7 linked regions of the Homo sapiens genome follow. The protein of the gene in region 1 purifies or fractionates together with the protein of each later gene. This does not show direct contact. Each region holds a gene or a part of one and is shown on either strand. Other genes may lie near its edges.

The links.
Region 2: the proteins of MMP7 (region 1) and ARMC8 purify together in Homo sapiens (affinity purification with mass spectrometry; 3 studies listed by BioGRID and IntAct, with this or other methods). This does not show direct contact.
Region 3: the proteins of MMP7 (region 1) and CNOT2 purify together in Homo sapiens (affinity purification with mass spectrometry; 3 studies listed by BioGRID and IntAct, with this or other methods). This does not show direct contact.
Region 4: the proteins of MMP7 (region 1) and CNOT9 purify together in Homo sapiens (affinity purification with mass spectrometry; 3 studies listed by BioGRID and IntAct, with this or other methods). This does not show direct contact.
Region 5: the proteins of MMP7 (region 1) and CNOT1 purify together in Homo sapiens (affinity purification with mass spectrometry; 3 studies listed by BioGRID and IntAct, with this or other methods). This does not show direct contact.
Region 6: the proteins of MMP7 (region 1) and TNKS1BP1 purify together in Homo sapiens (affinity purification with mass spectrometry; 3 studies listed by BioGRID and IntAct, with this or other methods). This does not show direct contact.
Region 7: the proteins of MMP7 (region 1) and MKLN1 purify together in Homo sapiens (affinity purification with mass spectrometry; 3 studies listed by BioGRID and IntAct, with this or other methods). This does not show direct contact.

The regions. Positions count from the first base shown.
Region 1 is NC_000011.10:102,520,748-102,524,247, forward strand, and holds part of MMP7 (matrilysin preproprotein), read right to left. Parts: intron 2,655-3,500; coding exon 2,493-2,654; intron 58-2,492; coding exon 29-57; 3' UTR 1-28. UniProt on the Homo sapiens protein: Degrades casein, gelatins of types I, III, IV, and V, and fibronectin. Activates procollagenase.
Region 2 is NC_000003.12:138,239,301-138,242,800, reverse strand, and holds part of ARMC8 (armadillo repeat-containing protein 8), read right to left. Parts: intron 3,334-3,500; coding exon 3,273-3,333; intron 1,019-3,272; coding exon 818-1,018; intron 1-817. UniProt on the Homo sapiens protein: Component of the CTLH E3 ubiquitin-protein ligase complex that selectively accepts ubiquitin from UBE2H and mediates ubiquitination and subsequent proteasomal degradation of the transcription factor HBP1.
Region 3 is NC_000012.12:70,351,433-70,355,493, reverse strand, and holds the end of CNOT2 (CCR4-NOT transcription complex subunit 2), read right to left. Parts: intron 1,666-4,061; coding exon 1,579-1,665; 3' UTR 501-1,578; downstream 1-500. UniProt on the Homo sapiens protein: Component of the CCR4-NOT complex which is one of the major cellular mRNA deadenylases and is linked to various cellular processes including bulk mRNA degradation, miRNA-mediated repression, translational repression during translational initiation and general transcription regulation.
Region 4 is NC_000002.12:218,589,339-218,592,838, forward strand, and holds part of CNOT9 (CCR4-NOT transcription complex subunit 9), read left to right. Parts: intron 1-2,965; coding exon 2,966-3,064; intron 3,065-3,277; coding exon 3,278-3,369; intron 3,370-3,500. UniProt on the Homo sapiens protein: Component of the CCR4-NOT complex which is one of the major cellular mRNA deadenylases and is linked to various cellular processes including bulk mRNA degradation, miRNA-mediated repression, translational repression during translational initiation and general transcription regulation.
Region 5 is NC_000016.10:58,619,827-58,623,326, forward strand, and holds part of CNOT1 (CCR4-NOT transcription complex subunit 1), read right to left. Parts: intron 1-3,500.
Region 6 is NC_000011.10:57,300,953-57,304,452, forward strand, and holds part of TNKS1BP1 (182 kDa tankyrase-1-binding protein), read right to left. Parts: intron 2,144-3,500; coding exon of another isoform or gene 2,017-2,143; exon of another isoform or gene 1,913-2,016; intron 1,874-1,912; coding exon 1,507-1,873; intron 1,273-1,506; coding exon 1,122-1,272; intron 992-1,121; coding exon 855-991; intron 90-854; coding exon 1-89.
Region 7 is NC_000007.14:131,442,876-131,446,375, forward strand, and holds part of MKLN1 (muskelin), read left to right. Parts: intron 1-605; coding exon 606-827; intron 828-2,898; coding exon 2,899-3,028; intron 3,029-3,500. UniProt on the Homo sapiens protein: Component of the CTLH E3 ubiquitin-protein ligase complex that selectively accepts ubiquitin from UBE2H and mediates ubiquitination and subsequent proteasomal degradation of the transcription factor HBP1.

The sequences.
Region 1 (3,500 bases):
GAATGAATGGATGTTCTGCCTGAAGTTTCTATTTCTTTCTTGAATTACTTCTCTTTCCTATTGAGAGAAAAAAAAAGAACATTCTGATATGTAGAAAATGCATAAAAACCATCCTAAGATTATACAGGCAAAGGAAATGTCACAGAAAGTATAATCTATTATTCACTCAGACCATTTCTTGTCCCTGGGACAAAGATTCTGAAGAACAACCTCCAGAGGCTAAGAAGGCAGGATTGACTGGAGTGTGGGCCCAGGGCTCAGGTACCTTTGCATCTTGTTTCTACCAGTTTACTAGATGTGTGACCTTAGGTAGTTTACTACTTAACCTCTCTTAGCATCAGATTACAAATCTGTAAAATGTGGATAATAATGTCTCATTGAATTCTTGAATTAAATGAGTTAATCCATGTGAAGTCTTGGGATACTGCAAGTACTCAATGCATGTTAGCTATTATTTATTTATTTTTTGAGATGGAGTCTCACTCTGTTGCCCAGGCTGGATTGCAGCGGTGTGATCTTGACTCACTGCAACCTCTGCCTCCTGGGTTCCGGCAATTCTCATGCTTCAGCCTCCTGAGTTGCTGGGACTACAGACATGCACCTTCACGCCCGGCTAATTTTTGTATTTTTAGTAGACATGGGGTTTTACCATGTTGTCCAGGTCTCGAGCTCCTGGCCTCAAGCGATCCCCAACCACCTTGGCCTCCCGAAGTGCTGGGTAAAGGCGTGAGCCACCGCGCCCAGCCAGCTATTATTTTTATCATTCTGAGTATAGCATTAGGAATCTTGTATCTTAATCACTTTCTTTGGAATCTATGTTTTCTGCTCATATTACTTTTTAGATTAACTCCCTACATATACAGCCCACATAATTAAATTCTATTTCCATTTGTCCAGAAGTTACTTGTTTCCAACTCTGACCAGAGATGCCCTTTTGTCTAATACTTAAGGTTTTAATGCACTAGTCTCTTTTCTTCCTGTTAAATTTAATCAGCATGCCTCAGACCTTCTTTAGTCTCTTTGTATTTTTCTTAGGGTTCTAAAATATTTATAGACTGCTATAGAATATTCCATGAGTTCCACAGTTTTATGTAAGGGGAGGATAGTATTTTCAGTTTTGTTCATGATAACTTTACGAACAATAGTCAGCATTTTGTGAATCTTTTGGACAGCAGTGGTTCTTTACGTCGTAACTTTTGGGAATAGTTACACAGCATTTTCCAAAGTGTGTTCTCTGAAGTGCTAGTTTATGGGACTCATTGAGACCCATAAAAAGGATTATAATTTAGGAAACACTGAGTTAAACATTTGTTCAATACTCCATACTCTCTAATAGTCTATACACCTGAAATACAGTAGGTAGTGTTTCTTGAACTTATTTCTCCATAGCCTCCTTTTCTGGGAATCACCCTGTAGGACTAGTGTTCTGAGAATACAGTTTGGGACATGCTGATTTATAGCAAATGCTAGGTTGAACTGATATCTTAAATCCAGTGTCTTACTGGAATATTTCTCCCCTGAGGACAGTCCTCTATTATGTGGAAGCACTTTCATTGCTCACGTGATCATTTGAAGAATCTTAAGTGATCTTTTTGCAGTGTATTCTCTTCATCCTGATATTTTTACTGGCTAGGTTTAGTTATATCTGCTGATTTAAAGATGTCATTCTGTATTCTTTTATTCTTACTAGGATAAAAAGCTTACTGGGTAGTGATAGGCAGGAATATGTCGTAGAAAAAGTATGAAGTCACATAGCCCTCACTTGGAATCATGGCTCAAGCACTCGACAGTCACATGACCTTGGACAGTCCACTTAGCCTCTTTGAATCTTACTTTCCTTATCTTTATCCAGAGACAGAGCTTTTTATTCTTGTCCTTTGATTTCTTTCTCAAATACTACTTTTGGCTGACTCAATACAGTAAATCCAAATCAGTGCACTTAAAAAAACTGAATTTGGAACTTGATTAAACCAAAAAAGCATAGACTGGGGCAAGGGATATACATAAGTATCAAGACCAGGAATGATAAGCAGTTTCTGTCCGTGGTTAACCGCTTTCTCTACATGTACGTGCAAACAGGAAGAGCAGGGTCACTTATAATTATCTAGGATTGAATCCTTAGGAGTGGGCAGCTATGAAGAAAGGTGTTTTGTCCCTTCAGTCCACCCCTACAGGGGACACTCTCCTAAACTATTTAAACTGAGAGAGGAAGAGCAGTGGGTGGCAGCTTGAAGAAAATCTGGACAATATCATTTGCATAATTTTACCACATGATACTATGTTACTGAAACTCACAATCAACATCTTCATAGTATATTACAGCCTAGTTATATTTTAAGTATCTAAGGTCCCCAATTCCTCCCCTCAATAGGCTTTTTGATATGAGTTCCAGTGTGGTTTTCCAGGTAAATACCCATTTCCCAGCCTTTCTTTTCCTACCCCACTCTAAAAAGAAAATGGGAAATCCTCTTATTTGAAATAATAAATATTACCATATAGTTTCTGAATGCCTTTAATATCATCCTGGGAAAGTTTAAAATTTTGGGGATCTCCATTTCCATAGGTTGGATACATCACTGCATTAGGATCAGAGGAATGTCCCATACCCAAAGAATGGCCAAGTTCATGAGTTGCAGCATACAGGAAGTTAATCCCTACAACCGAAGAAGTGACAAACAGTAATGATAAAAATAGCTACATACATTATGTAATATTATATATATGATATCATAATTTAAAAAAACTAAAGAAAAATACCCAAGTTTTAGCCCACGGTAGCTTACTTATTTGTTTCTAGGCTTTCAAAAGTGGAGAGGGGTTAGAAGGTTAATCAGAATAGGAGTGCTTTAATCTCATCACTACTTCTGCTTATTAAAAATGTGTAATTTTTTTTATTTGCTTCTTTCATTCAGGCAGCAATACTCTGCAGTGGAAAGCAAAGGTTTTAAAAGCACTAAGACCTAGGTTTGAAATGTAGCTCCACTACTTACTAGCTGGACAACTCTGGACAGATTAATTGATGTTGCTGAGTCTCAGTTTCTCATCTGTTAAACAGAGACAGTAATTTCTGCCCTCTAGATTTGTCATGATAGCTAGAGTTTCTCAATATTTGGGAAGTCACGGCCATTCAATAAATGTTAGTGACTTTGGATATCAGAAGAGAGAATGGTGGCTTTGAGAAAGCGAAGATTGAAAGGCAGGGTCTCTAGGCAATGCTGGGCTTTGTTTTTGATTTTGATTCATTAACTTGTATTACATATATCCTTTGTTCTCCCTCATACTCATTGAAAGGCTTTGCAAGTATGTGGAAGGTGTGAGCCCGTGCGTTTGAGGAGTGGCCTGAGCTCTGGTGGCGTTGCATTGAATTGAAGGAAGCTGCCTTTAACCTACCTTAAGTGGGAAGAAAGAAGAATGAAAAGAATATGCCAGATGCAAATGGGAGGCAGCATCACAATTTAACATAGATTTTCACAGCAAGACAGCAAGCTATGGTGAATTCC
Region 2 (3,500 bases), on another chromosome or scaffold:
TGCCTACCAAATGAGGTTTTTTGAAACTCAAAAGCATGAGGGAGAGGTCAAAAGGAGAATAGTTACCATTGGAACCACTGGCATGAAAAATACAGTTACATTCATGAAACAGTACTGGCTACTAATTAAGAGGCAATGTTCTCTCTACCATGACCTCCTTGAATAAACTTTCTCTTACAGAATGTTCATCTCCTATGCTTAAAGAAATGGATAGGGCAAACAGGCTGAGATGCAACAAGTCAAAATAAATACCGATCTATTCTAAGGAACTTAGGTTTTCAGAAAAAGCACAATTTGGCCTTTTTGGTCCCAAATTCAAGATTAAATGATGCTTTAGCTGTCACTAGCAGGCCCAAAGCACAGTATGAAACTGGGAAAAAGAGAAGATAGGGAAAGGTAACAAAATAGACTGTGGTGGAAAGTAACATGGGACAACTTAGTCTCCTGTAACAAAAAGATTACTCCTGACCTAAAGAATGAGAATGTAACAACAGAGATGATTCCATGACCAAGAATAAGATTATACGGTTATGTCAATACCCAGCTTGGAGAATCCACTACTTTTGAGGTTTAGTTGGGGAGTTAGGATGCAATTTTCTTTATTGCTTATCTGCTCAGTAAAAACTTTCTGACAATAAACATTAAACAACTTGGATTCAAAAATTCACAAAGCAATATTATCTATGTTACCAAAGATAAAAGAACCTTTATTTAAAAGGGCTTTAAGCTGTAGTTATCAATTGGTTCAAAACTGTGAACAGTAAGAAAAACTTTAGAAAAATCTCCCTTGAGCTGCTAAAAAAGGAAAATAACATACCCTTTTAATATCAGTGATGGCACTCACTGAGCTGGGATACTTGAAATAATCAGCAAGCATGGCAATGAGGTGATCAGTTATGCTAGCGATTCTCTGTAGCTCAACATCTGGTTCAATCAGATAGGCAAGTGTCTCAGCTCCTTCAACTCTCTCCTCTAGTAATCTCTCCTTACTGCACATTCGAACCAAACAAGGTAATGTCTGAAAGGTAGTGAGATTAATTATTTGCTTTTTGGTAAAGGTAAAAGCTTAAGCATATAGTGACTGAATCAACTCAATAGCTTTTATCAGGAGTAATGTTTATGATCATATATTTCCTTTACTGACTTCTAGAGAATAAAAGATTTTTTTAAAATGCAAAAACAAGCAAAATTCAGTACACATTAATAATTTGTACTGGCACATTAAACTCTATTCGTACGTCAAAGTATATTAATACAAATTCTAATTAGGCTTTTGGGACCGATAAGACAAGTTTTATTGTACAACTTTGTAAAAGACATTTAAGAATCCCTAACAAATCATGTCTGATGGTTCTGCCCTATCTATCTATTTATTTACCTAAAAAAGACCCAGCAGTTTAATCAGGAATGATTTTGCCTTAGGAAAAGTATGCTATCTCTTCCTTAGTGAGTAATATCGTTTATTTTTTGGTTTGGGGAGTCATACCTACAGTTGCCAAAACAAAATACAGCTTTAAAACTGCAGTGATCTTACCATTACTCAGATTCCACCAGTTCTACTATAATGCAACTGAAATGTATCACAGTTGCTAGGTTTTCCCAGTAACTTGCTGGAATTAGCAGTGGTATCCATGAGTCCAATTTTACTTCTGAGGTCCCTCAAAAATCTTGGCAATGGTTTGGTAACTTATCTACATTAGGTTCTCAATAAAAATATTACAGACATTTACTATTTCTTTTTCTTTTTTTTTGAGACGGAGTCTCGCTCTGTCGCCCAGGCTGGAGTGCAATGGCACGATCTCGGCTCACTGCAACCTCTGCCTCCTGGATTCAAGCAATTCTCCTGCCTCAGCCTTCTGAGTAGCTGGAATTACAGGCACCCACCACCACTCCTGGCTAATTTTTTATTTTTAGTAGAGATGGGGATTCACCAGGTTGGCCAGGCTGGTCTCGAACGACATTTACTATTTCTAAGCCTGACGGATCCACTTGAAAGGACAATGTGGAAGTATAAATTGAAATGTTATCATTATAGAAAGTCTTCCTCAAATACTGCAGGCAACTGTGCTTTGCTCTTTTATATATAATAAGTTCCTATTATATCTTTTACCACAGAGCTTAGCACTTCATCGTTCACTACTAATTTCCTATTAGGCTAGTAGAAGCTTTATAATTCAACCCTAGGTTTCCAAGGGGAAGGCCCTATTCTTTTTTCCCTAACATTACTAGTTACTAATATTTATTGATACCATAAATTCATGAATTATGTAATCTAATGCTCATGACTACTATGTGAAGAATATACTACTAACATTTTACCAATGCAGAAAAAGAGGAAGGTTAGAGAAGTAAATAAATCAAGATAAATGCTATGGAAGTCCGTGGCACTCTATGAAGAGTTGTTTACTTAGGGAGTGTTCAGATCTCATTAAATTAATTCTCTTCCCCAAAGACTAAAGCAAATATTAGTCTTCTTTGTGCTCTTTTATCCTTGGGATCACCTTTTGAACAATGATAATGTGAGATCTCATATTTATAAAATGACACATCATCAATTTACTTATACTTAATTTTTTATAGCTAATAAGACATTTTAATGTATTTAATATATTGTTATCCTCACAATAACCCTGTGCATAGATGAGCAGGAATTATTGCTTCAATTTTCATAATCTGGAGTCCGAGGCATCAAAAGAATAAAGGATGTACAGTCAGAGGTGGGAGTGCTAAAACCAGAATCCAGGTTTTAGGACTTTTAGGGCTGGTCTTTTCTCCAGGTTTTTCTAAATTCAAGTTGTATATGACATATCACAATGACAATGCTTGTTTTCATGTGTTATCTACTTATTCTCTTTCATTATGCCTTTTGATTATCAGCTATGAGAATGATATAAAGTCTTTTTCTGCAAAAGTGGCAAATCGTCTGCCTCTAAAACTGTAGTACAAATTTAATGACAATCAAGAACGAAATATATTTTCTGTTTCACCTGAATTGTACACTTTTACAATTTCCACATCCTCCTAATTACCATAAAATGAAAGGCTGTGACAATGAAATAATTATTTCACGCTGACTTTCGAAACACATCTAAAATCAATTTTTAAAAACTATATGACATCCACTGAAAAGAAAGCATGGTCTTTCAATATTATTCTACGCCATGCACATATATCATAATGATAAATGTGTAAAATGAAATATGAGTATCAATACTGATATTTAACACATAACTGGATAATTTTCACATTTTAAAGATAATTAATTAGCTTACCTTTAATACAATACAGTTATCATCTGTCCGAATTGCTCCAGCTCTACACATGTAAGTTAAACTGGAATAAGACAGCAGAAAATAAGTTTTTGCTTGGAGTTTAAAGCTTTAAATGAAAAATTATTTGCCTTTAAGATTTTATTAAAAAATCGAAAACCAAATAATATCACTTATCTTGAGAGTGAAGATTTTGACAATTCGCTTTTCGGAGGTTCAGTCAATTTAATA
Region 3 (4,061 bases), on another chromosome or scaffold:
CTCTCTAGTTCTGCTTTGGAAGCTTCAATCTTCTGATTTTTAAAATACAGTATTTGTATTTAGATGGGAAAAGAATCCACTAACTTGTAAATATGAGATATCTAGGCCAGCAAACTGAAGGTAAAGTCTACCCATTCCCACCTTATGGCTTACCTTCATTTGCACATTACTTCTTAAAGATAAATTTAAAGGTCTATCAAGAAATTTCTCATAAATTTTTCACAGAAGTACTTTGGTTGGGTTCCAAGAGTATTCAGAATGTTTTATTTCTAATGCTGCCACAACCCATTTAAAAAAGTTTTCTCTGATTAATACTGTCTACATTTTTAACCTACAAGTGAAACGGTTCACTATATTTCCATTAAATTACTTGTTGGAAGCTGAAAAAGACATTTGAGTCACACCATTCAGTTTGATATCTGTAAAACTTCAGTTTGTTTCCTCTATTTTTCATGTTGAAGAAATAATTTCGCAATTTCAAATCAAAGCCAACACTGCAGTGAGGAGAGCTTTTCTACTTTATTACAAAGAGAAGAAGCCTTTATGTGGTCAGAAAATACAAGATTGATCTTTTTTTCTCTTCCTATGAAACGCTGCTGTTCAAACAGCCAGAGTGAATTGTCTCAGTTCACTTCTTTTAAGTCCCATCACATTCACTTGGGTATGGATGTCCTTGGCTGCTGAAAATCTGGCCCTTTTAGTGCACAGGGCGACAAAGTCCCCTGACCAGCAGTTCCAGAATGTCCCATTTTCATATATTGCATCCATGCACACCTCCTAAAAATGAGGTACAGCAGGGCAAACATTTTCCAAAATAGATGTCATATATATAATATATACACATTCGTACATACATACCTTTATTCATGTGATGTCCAAAAATTTAAAAAAAATGTACACATTTATTACAAAATCGTAACAAAGACTGGACAGTGTTTTGCTCATTCTGGAAAGATGAAGCTCAGTAATAACACAACCCTGGAAAACCATCCAGAGATTGTGGCAATATCTTTCTTCTAAACAGTCAGATATTCTTGCATTAAGCTTGGCGAAACTGCCTTTCAAAAACAGAAGGGGAAGTAAAATGAAGGAAGCAGACCTCTTGCTCATCTTTCCAAATGAAATACGAGAAGGATCTTCACATAAAAATGCACAAACATTTGTTATTTTATTACCAATAGTGCTACAATGAACAATGCAAAATTTGTGGTCTAATTTTCTTGAGTCTTTTGGGGGTTTTCTTTTTTACATTTTAGAAACTATGGTAAACTTCTGTCAGTGTATTTGCTTGTCTTTACAGACTCAAGTCTGTCTGCTGGCAAAAAAGGAAATAAATGAAAAAATTCAGACCCTGCTCAAACTAGAGAAAAACAAATTACAAATTTAGTTGTTGGGCAGCACATAATTAGTAAGGCAGGACCTCAAATGGTGACCTTTTGCGTAAGCCAATTGCCAGATCCTCAAGGAATTAAAACCAGGGTGCCTGAGCCACATCAGTTCTGCAGTTATGTTGAGTATTGTGCTGAGACAGCCATACCCCAAGAAAAGGGAAGTCTTTTTTTTTTTTTTTTTTTTTTTTTAGAAGGCTTGCTGAGCAGGGTTGTAGTTGAAGGTGGATGGCAGGTGAGGCCGTTCTTCTAATTTGTCATATTCCAGATGGAACTCCTATAAAAACAAATTCAAGAATTTAGATATCTTCCCCTTTTCATTTTACATTTGTCAAAATACATTTTACTATAAAAATAAATAAAATACCCAATATATATGAATCAACATCAACACAGATATACCAACTGTTTTTCCTCTACATAAAATACAGCTTGAAGAAAAATAATGTGCTGTAGTTTCTAACCAATGAGTACAAAAAATACAGACAGGCTTTCTGTGTGTAAGTCAAGAGACTACTAATGGACCACTTGACACTGAAATGTTGTGTATTGTTTTTAACTTAAAAAAAGAGGGGGCAATTACTGTATCTCTGAATCACTGGAAATTACAGGATATTTAAAATAAAGCCCCCTTCAACGAAGTATAAAAACCTAAAGATTTTGTCCATGAAAAAAGTTTAGAAATAATTTTCCAAATTGTCTTTATTACATTTATATTAAAAAATAAGCAGGGCCGCGCACAGTGGCTCACGTCTGTAATCCCAGCACTTTGGGAGGCTTAGGTGGGCAGATCACGAGGTCAGGAGATCAAGACCATCTTTACCAATCAACATGGTGAAACCCCGTCTGTACTAAAAATACAAAAATTAGCTGGGCGTAGTGGTGCACGCCTGTAGTAGCAGCTACTCAGGAGGCTGAGGCAGGAGAATCGCTTGAACCTGGCAGGTGGAGGTTGCAGTGAGCCAAGATTGCACCACTGCACTCCAGCCCAGATGACAAAGCAAGACTCCGTCTAAAAAAAAAAAAAAAAGGAAAACACATAAAATTATTCTAACCTCATTAAAATCTGGGGAAAATAATGAACTTAAAACTCACACATCACTAGACTTGCATTTCACAAACCCAAAACCCTGACTCAAATATAAATCAACTGCCACCGAAAACTAGACAATGGTTCTGCTGTAGGAACATTTGAAAACTAGATAGCAGCTCACTTTAATCAAACTTTCAAAATACTGTATTAACTTCATGAGTTTTAAAATTTAAGAATGGTGACATAATTTCTTCATGATACTTCCCACCCAAGATCAAGAATAGAGATGCAGAATAGCTATGTATATTAGAAAAAAATGCAAACAACAAATACCTCTGCAACCCCAATAAGCAAGAGGCTCTAAAAGCCTCTTACCAATTCTACCATCTGAATTAGCACAAATTACTGCATAATCCAACTTAAAGAATTATGAAGCTTAATATGTATTATGTATTAAAGATTAAGGCAACAAGTGACATTAGCTACCATGGGTTAACATATTTTACCTTATCTGTCTGGTTTCAAACTGATTCCATGATGAGTATTTCCATTATTAAATTAAAATGAAAACCTAGACTATAATGACCAAATTTTAAGATGGAACACCAAGTATTTAAAATTTAAAGATATTACACTTAAATAAATTTAAAGATATTACAGACCTAACAGCAGAATTTATTGAAAGCCTAGTATGTGCTAAAATTAGAGATACAGCTAATTTTATTCTAATCTTTGTAATAATTCTGTAAAGCAGATATCATTATTTTCATTTTGTACCTGAAGAAAATGAGGCTTACAAGTAACTTGGACAAGTCATCAGTAAGCGGCACACCTAGCATTAGGATCCAGACCCATGTGACAAAAAGCCTCCATGTGACAAAAAGCCTGTGTCTTTTGTAGTGTAACACATTATTTTTAATATTTTTAGTCCAAGATCCAAAACAGATTCATTTACTTCATTACAAGGCAATCCAGAAATGCTGAAAGAATTCAGTCCCCTTCTCTCTTGGTATAAGGTGAAGAAAAAGGAAAAAAAAAATCAGTCCCCTGAGAGTTTATAAAGAAGGTACACCATGGTGACTTTAGCCTGAAAAGGTTGCCTTCATGTGACTGGTACAGTAATTAAGACACAGAGGTTATTTGCTTATCAGTAAAAATTAGCAAACACCAGAATCACCACCACAACCATGACATCCTGCCCTAATACACTGTGTAGCACTACTCCCCCTCTCCCAGCCCTAGCTAGGAATTAAAATAATTTTATTGCTTGGTTCAAGTTGACTATCTGAATTCGTGAAGAAAATTTGTTATCATTCTTCTGAAATTAAAATTGGCATTTTTGTTTTCAAAATGTGTAGTTACAGGGAAAAAAAGTCTAATTGTAACTTCCACAAAGTGGTAAGTTATACTGAGTAAGTTAACTAAAATTTTTCACATTGATGAACTACAATGTATGACTAGGAATTCAAACTAGATTAACTTTATCAATGTACATTTTCCCCCAGAAAAATATAGTTTAAACCTAAGCAGCGTAAATAATTTTGATATAGAGATTTAGAAATTTTGATATAGAGATCAGAGATTTAGAAATTACATAGGTAAAATTTTGCCTTCCACGTTTTAAAATCTTGTTTTCCACG
Region 4 (3,500 bases), on another chromosome or scaffold:
TTAAATTATTTATTTATTTAGAGACAGGATCTCTGTCTGTCACCCAGGCTGGAGTAGAGAGGCATGGCTCACTGCCGCCTCGACCTCCTAGGTTCAGTTGATCCTCCCACCTCAGCTTCACAAGTAGCTGGGACCACATGCCTGCTCCACCACACTCAGCTAATTATTTTTATTTTTTGTAAAGACAAGGTCTCCCTATGTTGCCTGGGCTACTCTTGAACTCCTGGGCTCAAAGGATCTTCCTGCCTTCTGCCGTAGTACTAGGAGTACAAGCATGAGCCACTGTGCCTGACCAATTTATTGTTTTTAAAGAGACAAGGTTTCACTATGTTGCCCAGGCTGGAATGCAGTGGCTATTCACAGCCATGATAATGGCACACTATAGCCTTGAACTCCGGGGCTCAAGCAGTCTTCCCACTTCCCTCTCTGGAGTAGGTAGCTTTGATACTGGCACACATCCCTATACCTGGCTATTTTTAAGCTTTTTATTTTAAATATTCAATATATGGATGACTGTCAAAGGCATTGTTGAGCAAAAGAAGCCAGACACATGGGAATTCATACTGTATGTTGATTATGTGAAGTTTAAGAACAAGCAAAGCCAATTACTGGCAATAAGTTGGATTCGTGGTTAGCTCTGAGGAAAGAACATTGACTGGGGAAAGGTACAAGGGAATGCTGGAATCCTGAGTTGGTAGAAATATTGCTTTTTTCTGTTTTTTTTTTTGTTGTTGTTGTTTTTTGTTTTTGAGACAGTCTCACTCTGTCACCCAGGCTGGAGTGAAGTGGAGTGATCTCGGCTCATTGCAACCTCTGCCTCCTGGGTTCAAGCAATTCTCATGCCTCAGCCTCCTGAGTAGTTGGAACTACAGGCACACACCATCATACCCAGCTAATTTTTTGTATTTTTAGTAGAGATGGAGTTTCGCCATGTAGCCCATGCTAGTCTTGAACTCCTAAGCTCAGGCAATCTGCCTGCCTCCACCTCCCAAATATTCTGTATTTTATACAATATTTTGTATTTTAATCTGGTTATAGTACATAATGTGTACATAGGTAAAAATTCAAGGTACACTTAAGATTAGTGCACTTAACACACTTCACTGTGTGTAAGTTTATATTAGGTTCCTATATAACCTGCTGCTATAACAAATTACCACAAGCTAGAAGGGTAGTGGCTTAAAACAATGGAAGTTTACTGTTTTATAGTTTTGGAAGTCACAAGTTCTAAATGAGTTTCACCAATCTAAAGTCAATGTATCAGGAGGGTCATGCTTTCTCTGGAGGATATAGAGGAGAGTCTTTTTGTTGCCTTTTCTAGCTTCTAGAACTGCATTTCTTGCATTCCCTGGATTATGGCCCCCTCCCTCTTCAGATCCAGCGATGTGGCATGTTCAAATCTCTTTCTGCTTGTCACATTGCTTTCTCCTTTGTGGTAAAATCTCTCCCTACATCTCTCTTGTTGTTGTTGTTGTTGTTGTTGTTTTGTTTGTTTGTTTGTTTTAAGAGATGGGGTTTTCTCTGTCGCCCAGGCTGGAGTGCAGTGGCATGATCATAACTCACTGCATCCTTGAACTCCTGGCCTCAAGCAGTCCTCCCACCTTGGCCTCCCAGAGTGCTGAGATTACCAGCATGGGTCACTTTGCCTGGCCTTCTCTACATCGCTTTTAAGGACACTTCGTTATTACATTTAAGGCCTACTTGGATAAACAGGGATAATCCCCCATCTCAAGATCCTTAACTTAATCACGTCTGCAAAGTCCCATTTTTCATTTAAGGTAACATTTGCAGAGTTTGGTGATTAGGGCCTGGATATCTTTGAGAGCCATTATTCAGCCTACTACAGTGTTATAACCCCAATAAAATAGTAAAATAATTCCACAGTTCATTTTGATGAGCAGCCAAGAAAGAGTATCATTATCGTGATTGTCTAATTTAAATTAAACTAATATTTTAATATCTCTTTTATGTAAGAGCTAATGAGCTCAAGTTGAGGGAAAAATTGAGGCCACATATAAGCTTCACAGCCAGGATATGTTTTATTACTGTTAGATAATCTTCAAAGAGAAGCGTGAAAATCTTATTTCTTCAAGATCTTTTAAGAACAAAAAAGGCCTTATCTCAGCCGAGTGCAGTGGCTCACGCTTGTAATCCCAGCACTTTGGTAGGCCAAGGCAGGTGGATCACGAGGTCAGGGAATTCAAGCCCAGCCTAGCCAAGACGGTGAAACCCCGTCTCTACTAAAAATACCAAAATTAGCCAGGCATGGTGGCAGGAGCCTGTAATCCTAGCTACTCGGGAGGCTGAGGCAGGAGAATCAGTTGAACCAGGGTGGCAGAGGTTGCAGTGAGCTGAAATGGAGCCACTGCACTCCAGTCTGGGCGACAGAGTGAGACTCCATCTAAAAAAAAAAAAAGAAAAGAAAAAAGAAAGAAAGGCCTTACTTCATCTGGAAGAGAGGAGGCATAGCTGAATAAATCATCTTGGCCTATGGAAAAGAGAAGAGCCTTAGATATTCAAATGAGGCTTGGATCTCAGCTGTGCCATAGTAACTTTGTCACTTGGGACCTTAACCTGGTGCATTATTGATTAACAGTTATACCGGGCACATAGTAGGTACTCTGTAAATGAGAAGGTCTCTGAGTTTTTAAGAATTTGATAATTACACGGAACCTACCCTTGTATGTAAAGTGAGAATAATAATGGTACCTACCTCATTGATTTATTATAAAAATAAGATAAGCATGTAAAGCCTCTAGAAAAAAAAACTGGTACAAAGTAATGTTCAACATGGTAATATTTATTATTCTTTGTACTATACATATATGATAAAGTTGTACATAATATACAAGGATCCCTGCTTGCTCAATTTTCTGACTGATAGTCATGCCTGGGAAAATGAGTAGAAAATGAGAAGATTAAATCTGAGCAACTTTATAAACTCTTCGATTTTGTTTTGCTTCAGGTTGCCACATTCATCCTCCAGAAGATCTTGTTAGATGACACTGGTTTGGCTTATATATGTCAGACGTATGAGCGTTTCTCCCATGTTGCCATGATCTTGGTGAGTTCTTTCATCTATCCCCTTTACAACTACTTCTCATCACAAAGCTTAATCTCTTTATAACTGGCATTGAACAACTTCAGTCCTCTGACTAGAACTAACAATTTTGGAACCTTTTATGATTCTTGGACTATCTGATCTCTGATGTCAATTAGAATTTGTTTGTGTTTTGTGTGTTTTTTCCAACCCCTCCCCTTATTTTGGGGGAAACAGGGTAAGATGGTCCTGCAGCTATCCAAAGAGCCTTCTGCCCGTCTGCTGAAGCATGTAGTGAGATGTTACCTTCGACTTTCAGATAACCCCAGGTAAACATTTATAGGATGTATAGGACTTTAGGGAAATACTCTGCTGAACAGTTTCCTAATCTCATGGCATAGCTCCTGTGTCTTTAGGACAGGGAAGTGGGGATATAACTGCATTTAGTTTGTCTGAGACA
Region 5 (3,500 bases), on another chromosome or scaffold:
AGAAAACTCTATCCAAATAAAAGGTTGGGGGTAAAGAAAGATCTCCCTAATTAATTCAAGAAATTGCCAAGATGTAAATAGTTTAACTCTGTAGATTACTAGAGATAGTCATGATATTCTAAAATCCAATGCACAAATGAAACTAAAATCCTGACCTACATAATGAACCACCACCGATAGATCTTTTCCTCTGAAATGTTACTTGCTCATTCAAGCAGTATGAAAAAAAGAAAAACCAGAGTATCGATTTCCAAGAATGCTATATTCTATCAATTTACCCAACTGTAATAAATGAAGCACTATTCAATTACAGTTCAACTGTATATATGCACTGGGGAAAGAGACTCCTTACTCACTATGGGACAGAAAACTTAAAAGGCATTGTAGGGTGCACTTAAGTGAAACTGGCCAAGGATGGCAAAAAATCAATTTTGCTTAAGGAAATTAGGTATTTATAGACAGTACACCTGAGTTTGGACTAGAATGATAAAGTTTTGGTAGAGATGACATTCCAGATGTAAAAAGACGAAGAGGCTGGGTGCGGTGGCTCAAACCTGTAATCCCAACACTTTGGGAGGCCGAGGTGGGCAGATCACCTGAGGTCAGGGGTTCAGGACCAGCCTGGCCAACATGAGGAAACCCCATCTCTACTAAAAATGCAAAAATTAGCCGGGCGTGGTGTGGCAGGCACCTGTAATCCCAGCTACTCGGCGGGGATAAGGCAGGAGAATCGCTTGAACCCGGAAGGAGGTGGTTGTATTGCAGTGAGCCAAGCTCGCGACACTACATTCCAGCCTGGGTGACACAGCGAAGACTCTGTCTCATTTAAAAAAAAAAAAAAAAAAAAAAAAGAGGACAAAGATATATTTGGGTACCACTGCTTAACAGTCTTTTGACTATAATACAACACAGTAGTACCACAGGGAAGGAGGAATCAACACTTATAATTCCAGATGAAGGTATTAGAATGACTTCTGAACAAAGAAAGGATATTTCCAAAGCAATGATTTAAGTGGCATTTTGGCAGAAATATAAAAAATTAACTGCAGTCCTAGAATCTTTTACAATCACAATATCCACATATTATTTGTGAAATAAACCCAAAAACCAATGATAAAGAAACTATAATGGAGATTAGTTAGAAAGTTATTTCAAAAAAGACAAGAGCCTGAAACTAGACAAAAAGATAACTTTTTTTTTTTCTTTTTTTTGAGACAGAGTCTGTCACCCAGGCTGGAGTGCAATGATCACAGCCCACTGCAGCCTCGACCTCCCCAGGCTCAGGTGATCCTCCCACCTCAAGTTTTGTATTTTTAGCAGAGATGGGGTTTCATCATATTGCCCAGGGTGGTCTGAAACTCCTCGGCTTAAGTGATTTGTACACCTCTGCCTCCCAAAAGTGTTAGGATTGCAGGCGTGAGCCACTGCGCTGGCCCAGCTAACTATTCTTTCTTTTTCTTTTTTGAGACAGAGTTTTGCTCTTGTTGCCTAGGCTGGAGTGCAATGGTGCAATCTCGGCTCACCGCAACCTCCACCTCCCAGGGTCCAGCGATTCTCCTGCCTCAGCCTCCCAAGTAGCTGAGATTACAGGCACGCGCCACCACGCCCAACTAATTTTGTATTTTCAGTGGATACGGGGTTTCTCCATGTTGGTCAAGCTGGTCTCAAACTCCCGACCTCAGGTGATCCGCCCGCCTCGGCCTCCCAAAGTGCTAGGATTACAGGCATGAGCCACCACGCCTGGCAACTATTCTTGTTAGCAAAACCAGGCCTTATAGTTTGTCCAAATCCACAGAATATACACCACCATGGCCGGGCATGGTGGCTCACACCTGTAATCCCAGCACTTTGGGAGGCCGAGGCGGGCAGATCACGAGGTCAGGAGATCGAGACCATCCTGGCTAACACGGTGAAACCCCGTCTCTACCAAAAAATACAAAAAACAAATTAGCCGGGTGCCTGTAGTCCCAGCTATTCAGGAGGCTGAGGCAGGAGAATGGCATGAACCCGGGAGGCGGAGCTTGCAGTGAGCCGACATCGCACCACTGCACTCCAGCCTGGGCGACGGAAAGAGACTCCGTCTCAAAAAAAAAAAAAAAAAAAAAAAAGAAGATACACCACCAAGAGTGAATTCTAATGTAAACCAGAGAATTTGGATGATGATGATCTATCAGCGTAGATTCATCAATTGTAAGAAATGTACAGGCTGGGCTCGGTGGCTCACACCTGTAATCCCAGCACTTTGGGAGGCCGAGGCGGGTGGATCACGAGGTCAGGAGATCGAGACCATCCTGGCTAACACGGTGAAACCCCGTCTCTACTAAAAAACTATAAAAAATTAGCCAGGCGTGGTGGTGGGCGCCTGTAGTCCCAGTTACTAGGGATGCTGAGGCAGGAGAATGGCGTGAACCCGGGTAGCACAGCTTGCAGTGAGCCGAGATGGCGCCACTGCACTCCAGCCTGGGTGACAGAGCGAGACTGTATCTCAAAAAATGTACCACTCTAGTGGGGGGGGGGGGGGGGGCGGGCGTGGACAATGGGCAAGGCAAAGCATGTATTGGGGCAGGAGATAATACAGGAAACCTCTGTACTTTCTCATCAATTTTACTGTGATCCCAAAACTGCTCTAAAAAATAAAATCAATTAAGAAAAAAACGCAAAACCTAGAAGCTATAAATCTAAGGGAACAAACGTTTAATTATCTGACTCGGAAACTGCTGAGTTCTGAATATAAAGCTTAAGAATATTATAGGCTCACGCCTATAATCCCAACACTTTGGGAGGCTGAGGTGGGTGGATCACCTGAGGTCAGGAGTTTGAGACCAGCCTGGCGAACATGGTGAAACCCTGTCTCTACTAAAAATACAAAAATTAGCCAGATGTGGTGGTGGGCACCTATAATCCCACCTACTCGGGAGGCTGAGGCAGGATCGTCTCTTGAAACCTGGAGGCAGAGGTTGCAGTGAGCTGAGATCGCACCACTGCACTCTAACCCAGGCGCCAAGAGTGAAACTCTTGACCCAAAAAAAAAAAAAAGAAAGAAAGAAAAAGAAAAAAGAATGTTAGATAGCGTCTTTGAAAATCCTTTTGGCTGGGTGCAGTGGCTCACGCCTGAAATCCCAGCACTTAGGGAGGCCAAGGCAGGCAGATCACCTGAGGTCAGGAGTTCGAGACCAGCCTGACCAATATGGCAAAACCCCGTCTCTACTAAAAATACAAAAATTAGCCAAGCGTGGTGGCAGGCGCCTGTAATCCCAGCTACTCAGGAGGCTGAGGCAGGAGAATCGCTTGAACCCAGGAAGGAGAGGTTGCAGTGAGCCGATATCGCGCTCCAGCCTGGGGGATACAGCGAGACTCTGCCTCCAAAAAAAAAAAGAAAAGAAAATACTTCCATCCCACTTTTATATTTCAAATAATTACTTCAACATTACTGTAATATTTATTGTGAGATATACATTTGGTCTTCATCCCATTTCCTGGCATACAACTTCTAAGATCCT
Region 6 (3,500 bases), about 45 Mb from region 1:
GAACGCTGGACCGCGGACTCCTTCTGGCTCGACTTGCTCTCAGCCAGCTCTCCCTCCTCAGCTGAGCGATTCCGGGGGCGCAGCTTGGCCTGAGAAGCAAGTCCAGAAGCAGATAGATAGTAGAGGGACAGGCAGTAGGACTCTCAGGGGGTAAGACCTTATCTCAAGAGTGTGCAGTCCCCAGAATCAAGCAGAGACCCCTCTGCAGTCCTTTCACCCCAAAGGATGGGAAGTCACTTAGAGATGCACTTCCCGCAGAACTGAGCTATGCCTTGCACACCTTTCTGTCCTCAAAAACATATGGCAGGATTGAATTCAGACAAACTGGGTGGGACAAAGCCAGTGGTGACTTCCCACCCCTGTTCCCTCTGCCTGCAATGCCACCCCACCATCCCAGCTCCAGGAGCCAACTCCTGTGCCTGCCGCCGGCTAAGATCAAATACATACAAGAGGCCTTCTCCAATCCACCCTCCCTTCCCATCCCCCTCCACTCTGCTGTTAGGAAATAACTCCTCTCTCTCTGAACAGGCCCAGCCCTTATCTGTGCCTCTCCTCAGGGACACCTAAACTTCTTCTCTCATCCAGGCTAATTATGGGCATCATGTCTCCCACTGCCCCTGAGGTTCCAGAATAAGAACACATCTTGTTCTTCTTTCCATCCCATTTGGCACACAGCATAGGGCCCGGCGGGGCACAAAGGGATCTTCTGGAGCCCTCGATGGAGAGGAGAGTGAGAGGAGGAATGGGAGAGGGGGACAGGGGAATGAATTGATGGATGAAGAGAAGAAAGACAGCATGCAAGGTGGCCACCTGGCCAGATGGCTGGACATGTTTGCTTAATGATCAGATGGTACCTTCAGGGCTGAGGGGCTCAGGCCAGGAAAGAGGTTGACTTTCAGCCCCTTGGTGCCCAACGACATCCGTGTCCGGCGGCTCTGAGGTTCCTCCACTACCTCTTCATCTGAAGATGGCACCCGAGATGCCCGTGGCTCTGCAAAGGCCCGGGAAAGGGGCTCAGAAAAGGCAGCACACCCAGACTCCCCGAACCCATAACCCCTGCAAAAGCTTGGCCTAATGCCCTAGAGATCAAGAGACATCACCAAATAATACATCAGCCCTACCTGTAGAGTCCTGGAACAGGTGTGCATCCGAGTCTGCTGCCTCCGACAGGCCCAAGGTACCCCCAGGCCGAATGACCGGGGCCCGGTGCCCACGCTTGCGCCCCAAGTTGGCACGGCTCCGATACATGGCACTGTCGAGGATCTCGGTGTCCTGCTTGGGGCAATGGTGACACCACTGCCATTGCTGCCTCATCCCACGGGAGCCCCTCAACAGTAGCTGACCAGGAGCTGGACCCCTCCTGCAGCCGGAGCTTCACGTTCACGTGACGCACCTACAACCCGCTTTCTGCCTCCTGGACTGGGACTGCTCAGGGAAGCTCCAGGAATGGGGCTCTCGCTGCATCGCCCTCACCCACCCACTGTCATGGGCTCACCCTCCACTGACCTCAATGAAGGAGAAGTCCTGACTGGGGGATCTGGCAGGAGGGCCTTGGGAGGGTCGCCGAGAAGTCTGTGCTGGCCCCTGATCGCTCCACCTGGCTGCTGAAGAGCCCCAGGTGCCATCCACGTCTTCTGTCTGGCTGGCCTCACCATCAGGCTGCGGCCTCCAGGAGGGTGGAGAGTCCCTGCCAGGCTCCAGCACCTCCTCTTGGGCAGCACCTGCCCCGGCTCCTTCCTCCTCCAACAGGCCCCCAAGGCCCGAGGCCGCTGACTCCCTCCGAGCCACCGCCTTGGAGCTGCTGGCTGCCAGCATCTCCTCCAGCAGGCCCTGGGAGCCGGAGGGTGGGGGGCGGGCCGGGCACCTGCCAGGGCTGTAAAGGGGACAGAGAGAGAACGAGATCATCGTAAGGCCCCATCTCCCTGCCCTGAAGCCTACTTCACAAGCTCCTTCCCCCAGCCCCCAAACTCTCCCTTGCCCTCCTTCCCATGCTTTTTCCAGACTCCAAGGACACGGTCAGGGCCTTGAGCAACACAGCACACAGGTGAAGAGCTGAGCCAGTCTGGCAGGTTCAAATCCCTGAGACCTCGGGTGAGCCCCCTCCCCTGGAAACAGCTCAGGCTCCTCTAACTGCACGGAGTCGCTGCAAGGATGAAAGAAAAATCTAAAGCACTTAGCACAGTCCTGGTCAGCACGCACCGCAGAAGCAGCAGCCATTATTCCTGCTGCTGTTGCATGCTAGCAATGTGTTCCCTCCCAGGGCCACGTGCTCGGGCAGTCACACTCCTTGGGGTGAGCCAGGTACTGGCCCACCTGCCTCTCCGGACTCATGTTGTCTTCAGCCCCCACGTTATGCCTCTTCATTCCCCAGGCTCACAGAGCAACCAGGGACCATCAGAAGACACCCGGCCCTCACATGCTGCTGGCTTTGAACGAGCTGCTCCCTCTTCTGGAAAGCTCCCCGCACCACACCGTCCCTGGTGGTACTGTCCCCTTGGTTCAATTCTGCTTCCGAAGCTGCCCTGCCCCCTCCCAGCCACCATGGCCGCCTCAGCCCTACCAGCCCTGGGCTCCAATCCATGCCAGTTCCTGCTTCTTTCCTGTGGTTCTTTGTCCCCATAGCCTGTCGGTGAGCTCCTCAAGGGCAAAAACGGGGCCCTTTCTGCCTTTATGCCCCCAGCACCTGACCCAGAGCCTGGCTACGCGCCGGACTAAGCAAATGTTTGCCAAGCAAATGAGGGGCTGGGTCACCTTGGACCTCCATGCAGCATATGCATCTTCTGTCTGCTGCTTCCTCAAAACACAATACAGCTGGACATGGGGTGCAGGGCTCACGCCTGTAATTCCAGCTACTTGGGAGGCCAGGGCAGGGGGATCACGTGAGCCCAGGAGTTCAAGACCAGCCTGGGCAACATAGCAAGACCCCATCTAAAAACAAAATACAAACACGGCACAAGCACACCACACACTCTCTCACTAACTCATACTGCCCGCCCTGTCCAGCGGCCACTCCCCAAAATGACACATTCACATTCATCACCATCACACACACTCAGGCAGAGAGCTTGTGCGCTGTTTGTCACTCCCCCAGATGGACCTCGCACCCACCACATCTACAGGCACGGCACAGAGCCACACCTGACACAAACACACGCATCCCCGCATCCCCACACCCCCACCCCACACACACACACTCATACTACGCACAGAGGTGTGGGAAAGCCTGGCACGGCAGTGCCTGGAAGCCAGGCCCCAGGTTCCCACTGGGATTAAAGCAGGAGGAGAGTGGGGCAGGTGAGTCAATACCAAGCAGGAAGAGGGGGCAGGGAGAGAGAGCATGAGTGGTAGTCTGTCCTTCCACAAGCTGCTGACAGATGGAAATTAAAGTGGTCTGGGGAGAGACATTGGGGGAGGAGGCAGTGGCGGCAGCAGAAGTACAGCAAGGCAGCAGAATTGGGAGCAGCCCTGGCTGGGGGCCAAAGCCAGCTCACCCTGACAGC
Region 7 (3,500 bases), on another chromosome or scaffold:
AGCTTAATTCAAAGAAAATTAAATAGTGCTATGTTAAAAGTAGGCAGAGTTCTTCACATTGTAGAAGTCAGTCTGGAGACTTGATTGTTGTAAATGTCCTTTTGTTTGTTTGTTTTACTGTTTTGTAACATAATCTGAAGGGTTTTATAAAAATAAATGCAGAGAGGTGAATTTAGCTTCACCACTCTTATTTGCATATCTGATCGCTTAGTAAATGGTAGTAATATTAATAGGATGCTTGCCTAGAATGAAAGAAGGGAATTTTTATAAGGAGGGTATGATCACTATTCACCCAGAATATAAGTATTCACTCTTACATATAAATCAACGCCTCATGTATCATTGGTTGATTTTGATAAAAATTATGCAATTTCAAGAAAGCAGAAAGCTCTTTATTCCAACATGTTTTTACCCTCACTGACAAAAATGACAACTTGAAAAATTATTTAGAAACTTGCATATGATAATCAGGGGTGGTATTTAGTGTCATTAGGGACAAAGTTTAGGGTTTTTTTGAGAATGTAAAACTGTACATGTTGGTTTTGTTTTAGCACATATGACAGGAACAAACTAAAACTATTCAATCTGTTGCCTTGTTCTGATAGATGTGTATGGACTCAGAAAAACATATGATCTACACTTTTGGTGGTAGAATTTTGACTTGTAATGGCAGCGTAGATGACAGCAGAGCCAGTGAACCACAATTCAGTGGCTTGTTTGCTTTCAACTGTCAATGTCAAACCTGGAAACTTCTTCGAGAGGACTCCTGTAATGCTGGGCCTGAGGACATCCAGTCTCGAATAGGACACTGCATGTTATTCCACTCAGTAAGAACATTCCGTACATTGCGTAAATGTTATTTTGTCATGTATATCTAGATAGGAAAAGAAGTGGTGAAATCTAATTCTTTAGGAAGAGATTAGTGTAGCAATGACAGAGAAAGACAAAACTTCTTTAACAGTGAACTGTTTGCTAATTATGAGACTCTTCCCATCAACCTGGTAATTCCTAAATAGTTACTACCTGGCTACCAACCTGGGCAATCTTATGACTAATTTCACTGCTTATGTAGATTTTGTAGCTATGTTCCTTTCTTATGCCTTTCCACTTACGTCTCTTAGTAATTAGAAGGACAATTTCTTACTCTGTTCTTATTTTCCCTTCTGCTATTCTCCATTAAGTACAAAGAATTTAAGATTTGATTTTATAGAATTAGAATTTAAATGTATCAGCAATGGTCAGGAGCAGTGGATCACTTGATTCCAGAAGTTTGAGACGAGCCTGGCCAACATGGCGAAACCCCATCCCCAGTAAAAATACAAAAATTAGCCTGGCGTGGTGACCTGTGCCTGTAGTCCCAGCCTCCCAAGTAGCTGGGATTACAGGCATGCACCACCACGCCCGGCTAATTTTTTGTATTTAGTAAAGACAGGGTTTCACCATGTTGGCCAGGCTGGTCTTGAACTCCTGACCTCAGGTGATCCACCCGCCTCTGCCTTCTGCGGTGTTGGGATTACAGGCATGAGCCACTGTACCTGGCCACTTTCTTGATGCTCAAATTTTTCTCTTTGGCTAGTAGGAGCACCCCCCACAACATATTTATGTATCTTTTTTTGTAAGAGAAAAATTAAATTGTGAATTCATACTGATATGTCTGATTCAAATAAAATATTTTTTATCTTAATGTCTTCTATTTTGTAACTTTATATCTTTTCTTTTTACCCCGACTGGAGCGCAGATCGTAGCTCACTACAGCCTTGAATGTCAGGGCTCAAATGATCCTCTCACCTTAGCCCCCCAAGTAGCTAAAACTACAGGTGTGTACCACCACACCTGGGTTTTGAGTAGTAGTAGTAGTAGTAGTAGTAGTAGTAGTAGTAGTAGAAGAAGTAGTAGTAGTAGTAGTAGTAGTAGTAGTAGTAGTAGTAGTAGTAGTAGTAGTAGTAGAAGTGGAAGTGGAAGTGGAAGTAGGAGACAGGGCCTTGCTGTGTTGCCCAGGCTGTCTCAAGCAATCCTCTCACCTTGGCCTGCCCAAATGCTAGGACTACAGGTGTGAGCCACCATGCCTGGCCTATTTTTGTGTCTTTTAAGGTTAAAATCCTGCTTCATAACATTAGTTGCTTTGTCTGTCTATAATAGCTTTCACAGTAAAGAAAACTAACAACAGAATCACTGAGTGCTGTTTAACGTTGCTTTCTGATTATTTTTCTGTTTAGGATTTAGACTTCTAGGGATGGGTAGTCAAAAAGTATGTATTAAAATCATTAGAAATACTATTTCTGTGTCTGAGTATATCTTTATATACAGATAGGTTTATTTGTTGGATTTTTTTTGCCCAAATTTTAGATTTTTTTTTTGAGTTAATTTTGTCTTCTAATTAAATAAAAGCATATACATTGTTCTAAAGTCAAAACCATACATCAAGGTATTATTTTTGGAGAGGTCTTCCTGCTCTGTTCCTGCCACTATAGGTAACTGTCTTTTATTAGGTTTTGGTTTATCCTTCCTTTGTTTTTCAAAAAAAGAAGCAATCTCTATTCTCGCTCTCGCTTGCGTGCTCTCTCTCTCACTTTTCCCCTCTCTCACATTCTCTTTCCCTCTCTCCCTCTCTTTTTGTCTGATGCACAGATATTCCTTCTTCTCCATTCCTACACAAAGGAAGAAGGAACCTGTATATATTATTCTGCACCTTGCTTTTCTTCTTTAACAGGATGTCCTAGAGATCCCCTTTTAGCAATATGTAGAGAGCTTCCTCTTTCCCTTTTATTCCAGCATAGTACTCCATTGGGATCTGTTATAAAATTACTTTTGTAGAGGTTTAAGTTTTTAAAGGATCATTCTGAGTTCTTCATGGAAGTGATAAGTTACTCCTTTCTTTTTTTTTTTCTTCTTTTTCAGAAAAATCGTTGCTTATATGTATTTGGTGGCCAGCGATCAAAGACCTATTTGAATGATTTCTTTAGTTATGATGTGGACTCTGATCATGTAGACATAATATCAGATGGCACCAAGAAAGACTCTGGGATGGGTAAGGGCATTGAGTGATTTCTTCTCTCATGTCTTAACTACTTTAGGTAGAAAACTGCAGTTCATTCTCTTTTCTTTCTAATCATTTTTCACCCTTTCTTTATTTCTTTAATTGAGTAATTCCAAGTAAGAGAAAGAAAATTCTACCAGCTTATTCAGTTCTATCTATTTTTAAATATGGGAATTACTATTTCCTTCAAGCAGAAAATATGTGAATTTCTAAATGAATTGTGTGTGTGCTTGTTGGGGGGCGGGGTAGGAAGAATCAATATCTTAAAAACTTTTTATTCTGTGTTTGCTAATTTTTTTCATCTTCTATTTTCACTGTAGTGATCTTTATATTAGGCACTAGCATAGTAGGGTGTGTGTCTTAAGGGGGGAACTTCATGGGATTGGTAACACCTTGTAAGTTTAAAAGCTCAGCATCTAGGAGGTTATTAGTAGTGGAATGGCTGGTTTGCTTAGATTATGCA